Regions from separate parts of the Homo sapiens genome. Here region 1 is reported to be linked to region 2. The links are microRNA targets in miRTarBase. Many come from high-throughput screens and were not tested one by one. Region 2 holds a microRNA gene; the other region holds the end of a gene's coding sequence.

The links. Region 2 holds the annotated microRNA hsa-miR-26b-5p (UUCAAGUAAUUCAGGAUAGGU, at 1,985-2,005, shown strand). A microRNA usually pairs through its seed, bases 2 to 8, with sites in the 3' UTR of a target mRNA and lowers its output. Matches are read on the target gene's strand: a 7mer-m8 pairs with bases 2 to 8, a 7mer-A1 pairs with bases 2 to 7 and ends in A, and an 8mer does both.
Region 1: the mRNA of CBY1 is a reported target of hsa-miR-26b-5p. The part of its 3' UTR that is shown has no 7-base or 8-base seed match.

The regions. Positions count from the first base shown.
Region 1 is chr22:38,672,453-38,675,846 of GRCh38, reverse strand. It overlaps CBY1 (chibby 1, beta catenin antagonist), which reads right to left. Exons shown (of 5, transcript NM_015373.4): 5 at 1,997-2,688. The coding sequence ends at 2,611. TOMM22-DT (TOMM22 divergent transcript) reads left to right here. Exons shown (of 2, transcript XR_007068097.1): 2 at 1-331. Among named protein-coding and RNA genes, the nearest start is that of TOMM22-DT, 7.7 kb to the left of the region's middle.
Region 2 is chr2:218,400,673-218,404,066 of GRCh38, forward strand. It overlaps MIR26B (microRNA 26b), which reads left to right and starts at 1,974; the gene lies at 1,974-2,050. It overlaps CTDSP1 (CTD small phosphatase 1), which reads left to right. Exons shown (of 7, transcript NM_021198.3): 2 at 892-1,040; 3 at 1,439-1,543; 4 at 1,677-1,733; 5 at 2,363-2,455; 6 at 2,560-2,745.

The DNA of each region.
Region 1 (3,394 bases), not on the chromosome of region 2:
GGGATCCACACCATTGTGACAACGAAATATGCCCACATGATGCCCAAGGCTTCAGTCCTGGCCCCACCCTTCCACTGTGTCACTGTGCTGGGTTGGTTTTCTCATCTAAAACATGGTGATGGGGATAACAAACTTGAAAGAGTGTCATGCAAATGAGGTGTCCAGCATCGGGAGGTGTCCAGCATCAGGAATATTAATAAAGGGTCCCCAGTGATACCGGCCGAGGCATAAGCAAACTCCACTGCTCCTATTATCTGCACCTGAAGATTTACACCTTGCATATATGTGGATCCTTTTCCAATTTCTTCTGTATTAAACATTCTCTCCTGTATCAGAAAGTCAGGTTATGGGTTGGAGCTACAAATCTGCCCTTCGATCCATCCCCCCCATAGAGTGCTTTGCTGGCCGTAAGGATGGACTGCAGACAGCAGCTCCCTTTGAGGCCGCCCCCAGCTCCTCTCTTTCATAGCGGGCTGTGTGAATCAAGCTCCAGCACTTCTACTGTGTGATCCTAGATCAGTGTCTGAACCTCCCAGAGTTTCCTTCTCTGCAGATGGATGTGCCGATAGCCCCTGCTACACAGGGCTGAGCTGAAGGGGAAATGAGACAGTGAGAGCAAAGGGAGCCTGGTGCCAGGCATGTACCGGGCATTCAGAAGTGGCTAACCATGGTAGCCTGTCCCTAGTCTAAAGCCCTGGGCACCATGCCCCCACCTCCACCCCCTCAGTTCCTTCCCGCTTGACTTCAGGAGCTGGATTCCCTCCTCTTGCCAGAAAAGTCCAGCTCATACTGCCTACGGCACAAATTCTCACACCAACCATTAGGTTCCTGCCAGGTCCTGGCCAGTCCCAACACCATGAAGCAGGAGGGCAGGCGAATTTTGAGCAGAGAGACTGTTTCTGTTTGGCATCAGCCTCTGCCAATGCCCAGGAAAGCTGGAATGCTCTCCTACAAGAGTGACAGTTCCCCACACACTAAACATTCTTTTTTTTTTTTTTTTTTTTTTTGAGACAGAGTCTTGCTCTGTCGCCCAGGCTGGAGTGCAGTGGCCGCCTCCCGGGTTCAAGTGATTCTCCTGCCTCAGCCTCCCAAGTAGCTGGGACTACAGGCATGTGTTACCACACCCAGCTAATTTTCTTTTGTATTTTTAGTAGAGACGGGGTTTTGCCATGTTGGCCAGGCTGGTCTCAAACTCCTGACCTCAGACGATCCACCCACCTCAGCCTCCCAACGTGCTGGGATTACAGGCGTGAACCACCACGTCCGGCCAATTCTGTCTTTTGATGGAACAACAGAGGCTTAGACTCCAGGCTCCAGTTACTTTTTTTTTTTTTTTTTTTTTGAGACAGGGTCTTACTCTGTCACCCAGACTGGGGTGCAGTGGAGCAATCACAGCTCACTGCAGCCTCAACCTCCCTGGGCTCAAAGTGATCCTCCCATCTCAGCCTCCTGAGAGACTGGGACTACAGGTGTGCACCACCACGCCCAGCTAATTTTTTTTTTTTTTGTATTTTGTTTCGCTATTGCCAGGCTGGTCTTGAACTCCTGAGCTAAAGCAATCAGCCCGCCTCAGCCTCCCAAAGTGCTAGTGCTAGGATTACAGGTGTGTGCCACCACACCTGGCCAGGCTCCATTTAATTCTTTTTTTTTGGAGACGGAGTCTCGCTCTTGTCGCCCAGGCTGGAGTACAATGGTATGATCTCGGCTCACTGCAACTTCTGCCTCCTGGGTTCAAGCGATTCTCCTGTCTCAGCCTCTCAAGTAGCTGGGACTACAGGTGCCCACCACCACGCCTGGCTAATTTTTGTATTTTTAGTAGAGACGAGGTTTCACTCTATTGGCCAGGCTGGTCTCGAACTCCTGACCTCAGGTGATCTGCCCACCTCAGCCTCCCAAAGTGCTGGGATTACAGGTGTGAGCCACCATGCCTGGCCAGCTCCATTTACTTCTTGAGAAACTCATGGTTCTCTTTTTAGTCACTTTGGTCACAGAGAGATTATTTAACATCGTTTAATAAAAAAGTAGTAGTGCAAACAGGAAAGTAGCATAAAAATATAGTGTTGTTGTGGAAGGCTGGTGCTTGCTGCTGAGAAGCTGAAGCCAGAGGAGGCCAGGTGTGAGGAAGGAGGATTCTTTAAAGGCAAGAAGAGAGAGGCCTGCCTTTAAGAGCCAAGAGAGCCGCTCATCCATGACCCCAACACAGAGCTCTGTAGAACTGCTGTCACACGCCAAACACCAACATAAGGGGGTGAGAGAATGAACTCCAGCCGCTTCTCCCAACACAACCCAACAGAGCTATTCTGGGACATGTGTGTTTGCGAGCTTGTGTGTGGAGAGCACCAAAAAGCTCATCAGCAGCCCCAGGCCTCTGTGCGGTCTGGTTTTCAGACTGGCACCCGCAGGCAGTGCATCTGAAGCACCTTCTAGTTACTATCCCCATCTGGAATCTTGGTTTTCTCCATTCCATGTCACCTTCTATTGCCAACCCAAGGGTGCCAGTGCCTGTGGGTCTCATTATATGATACTCTCTTCCAGGACTGAATCCGCTAGTCTGGCCAAAAAAAAAGCACTCAGCCACATCCTACTCCCCAATAAATGTCTCTGGGGTCTTCATTTTCTCTTCCGGCTGATCCTCAGTTCATCCAGTTCCTTCTCCATTAAGTGGGATTCAGCAGTGGACTCTGAAAGCTGAAAGTGAAGCAGCGGCTGTTAGCAAGCAGCACATTTCTAGGAAATGTTTCGGGTTAGCAAGGCCGGCCCTACACACGGAGGAAAGGCCCCCTGCCACTTCTCTGATGCTGCTGGCTTCCTCGATGGGAAACCCTCTGTAACTGGGTAGAATGCAACCCCTGATGACCCAGGACCACAAGTACTTGAAGAATATTCACAGTCCACTCTGTCAGCACGCTGTCACCCACGAGGGCATGGCACTCCCTGCACGAAGGAGAGCAGGTCTCAGAGGACGTCAAAGGCAGATACTGGTGATTGTAAGGCTAAGGGATTAGAGCTGAAATTGATTCTAAGCTGTAGCTCCCATAATGGGGATGAGGGGAAAAAATGCTAGAAATAGAATGCCACTTTCCTCCTTAGGGTTTTTTTGTTTTTGTTTTTTGGTTTGTTTGTTTTCTGAGACACGGTCTCGCTCTGTCGGCCAGGCTGGGTGCTTTTCTTGTACTAACTCACTATGAGGTAGATACTACGATTATGCTCATTTTTAAAAAAAAACATCCAGGCCGGGCGTGGTGGCTCATGCCTGTAATCTCAGCACTTTGGGAGGCCAAGACAGGGAGATCACTTGAGGTCAGGCGTTGGAGACCAGCCTGGCCAACATGGTGAAACCCCATCTCTACTAAAAATGCAAAAATTAGCCAAGCGTGGTGGCGGGTGCTAATCA
Region 2 (3,394 bases):
CGCGTGGAGGCGCCGACCCCCTCGGAGGCACAGAGAGGACGGCCGGCACTTCCAAGAGTCGCTTGGCGCCCGCGGGGAGAGTCGTGCGCCTAGTGGGCACGCACCACCCCGCAAAGCCTCGCCGCCCCGACGAGGCTGCGTCCCCCAGCGTGGCTGGGCCGGGGTGGGGGGGTCTGTCTTCTCCTTTTCCCCGTGTGGACCTCAGGATCTGGACGCTGCCCCCAGGTCTGCCCACCCTCGCCTGGGTCTGGCTGCCCCGGAACTGAGGGCAAGGTGGAAAGGCTAGTTGCAGGGGGCCGGAGGGGGGTGGGGTGGGAGGGGTATCTGTCAATCAGGCTGCTGGGCTCCAGGTCGGAGGTCTGGGCGGGGCAGGGCAAACAGATGGCCACTGGACACTGGCCCCAGGCCGCGGGACTGCACCCCTGCCTCTGGGCCCAGCCGCAGTGAGGACTTCGTACCCACGGGGGTGGAGAGGATGGAGGGAGGGCAGGGGTGGACTGCCCTGGGTCCCAGGCCCTGGCTGTCCTGAGCAGGGGTGCTCAGGTAAGGTGGGGTCAGGAGGCACCGCAATGGGGCTGATCAGCAGCAGTCATGGAGGCTGTGAGAGGCAGGGAGAGAGCACCCCAGGACCTCCTTCTCCAGGCCACGCACTCCCTATGTGGGCGCCTTAATACCTGCTAGACCTATTTGTCTGGGAGCTGCAGGAGCCTTGCAGTTGATTGTGGAGCCCTGACAGGGGCGTTTCAGAGAAAGTCAGGAGCTGCCTTCGTGTGTCTGGATGAAGGGGCCACGGCAAGATCCTCCTGGCTCAGGGGTTCACACCTGGGCACACATGCAGGATTCTGCAGGCCAGTGTGCACCGAGCCTCCAACTTGTGCCTCCCTACTTCAGGTGACCAGAAGTCAGCAGCTTCCCAGAAGCCCCGAAGCCGGGGCATCCTCCACTCACTCTTCTGCTGTGTCTGCCGGGATGATGGGGAGGCCCTGCCTGCTCACAGCGGGGCGCCCCTGCTTGTGGAGGAGAATGGCGCCATCCCTAAGGTGCGTGGGGGCCAGGTGGGGCCACGGGGGCACCTGGACTCAGTCTTCAGGGCTTTAGGGGAAGGGGCTCCTGACTGAGCTTTTCAGGATGGACTTGCAGACCTGAAAGGTGCAGAGTAGGAGGGTGGCAGCCTCCCCTGCCAGGCCCTGCCCACTGTGGGGAAACTGAATTCTCCCTCATAAGTGGAAGCTTTTTCCTACCTTGGTTTTTAGAGAGGTCTCAAAGAGCCAAGAGGCCTACCCAAGCCCTAGAGCTGGCAGGGGCAAAGCTGGGAAGGGGGAAGTATCTGTTCCTGGGGCCTGGGGTTCCTCTGGAGACGGCTAGGGGGAGAAGCCTGCGTGGGAGGAAGGACCAGGCCCGGAGAGAGGCACCCCAGCCAGCCCCGCCCTCCCTACAGCAGACCCCAGTCCAATACCTGCTCCCTGAGGCCAAGGCCCAGGACTCAGACAAGATCTGCGTGGTCATCGACCTGGACGAGACCCTGGTGCACAGCTCCTTCAAGGTGGGCCCTGCTCAACAGCCCTCAGCCCGGGTCTCGGGGGGCATCCCCCACCCTGGCCTGGGAGGGAGGTGTGTGCTGGACCCCATGCCCTGGGGCTCCTCCTCCAACTCCAGCAGCTCTTTTCCCCCCACAGCCAGTGAACAACGCGGACTTCATCATCCCTGTGGAGATTGATGGGGTGGTCCACCAGGTGAGGGCCAGGAAGAGGCAGTGGTGGGCTTGGCATCTGCCTCCAGACCCTAGGCTCTTCCCACCAATCCGGAGCGCCTCGGATGGGAATTGGATACATGTGGAATGTCAGAGGCCCAGAGAGGGTGTGAGACTTGTCCCAAAGTCACACAGAACCTCAAGGGCTTGTGCTGACTCCAAGCCTGCAGAGTGGGCTCCTCCTCTAGGCTCCCCCGTGCTGTGCTCCCTCGCCCCACCCTGCCCGGGACCCAGTTCAAGTAATTCAGGATAGGTTGTGTGCTGTCCAGCCTGTTCTCCATTACTTGGCTCGGGGACCGGTGCCCTGCAGCCTTGGGGTGAGGGGGCTGCCCCTGGATTCCTGCACTAGGCTGAGGTTGAGGCAGGGGAAGGGATTGGGAATTAGGGACCTCGTGAGGTAGGACTGGCCAGTGGAGTGGAAGTTTTGATCGTTTTCTGGCGGGGGGTGGGTACAGTTTCCCCAGCAGTGGTCAGGGTAGCTGGCCAAGCGGAGCCTGCGGGCCCAGTCTCCTTCCTGTGCGCCTCTGCCTCCCTGGCCCATGCCCTGCCAGCCCTCGGCCACCCCCACACTGCCCCACTGGCCCGCAGCCCCCTCACTGGCCCGCCCCCCAGGTCTACGTGTTGAAGCGTCCTCACGTGGATGAGTTCCTGCAGCGAATGGGCGAGCTCTTTGAATGTGTGCTGTTCACTGCTAGCCTCGCCAAGGTGAGCCCCACAGGGGTCCCGGGGCAACCCTGCCCTCCTACCTACCTCCCGCATGCAGCCCAATGAACCTGCGGGCCCCAGGATGACCCACCTCCTGCTCCCAGTACGCAGACCCAGTAGCTGACCTGCTGGACAAATGGGGGGCCTTCCGGGCCCGGCTGTTTCGAGAGTCCTGCGTCTTCCACCGGGGGAACTACGTGAAGGACCTGAGCCGGTTGGGTCGAGACCTGCGGCGGGTGCTCATCCTGGACAATTCACCTGCCTCCTATGTCTTCCATCCAGACAATGCTGTGAGTGCGGGCTGGACTGGGACTGGGACAGGAGCTGAGACCCAGGAAGGGGTCAGTCCATTCAGGCCACCTTGGCCTCTTGGATCCCCAGTTGGGGGGTGGGTGCCCTCCCAGTCCTTCCTGCATTCATTGCCTGTGCCTGCCGCCCACTCCCCTCATCCACCTGCCCTGTAGCCATATGGTCTTTTCCCCTCGCACAAAGCAGAGCATCTGCCATGCACAGGGGCCCCCACAGGGCAACGGAGTTTGGAAAGTTTCAATTTTTCGAATTGCCAGTTGTGACCTACTGATGGCCCACAGAATTAATTTAGTGGGTTCTGATTGGGAATTTTAACAAAATGAAATAGAATAGAAAATATCCGGTCGGGTGCAGTGGCTCATGCCTGTAATCCCAGCACTTTGGGAAGCTGAGGTGGGCAGGTAGCTGAGCCCAGTAGTTCAAGACCAGCCTCGGCAACATAGTGAAACCTTATGTCTACAAAAAATACAAAAACTAGCCAGGCGTGGTGGCGCATGCCTGGAGTCCCGGCTATGCAGAAGGCTGAGGTAGGAGTATCACTTGAGCCCTGGAGGCAGAGGCTGTGGTGAGCCAAGATTGTGCCACTGCACTCTAGCCTGGGCAACAGAGCAAGACCCTGCCTCAAAAAAA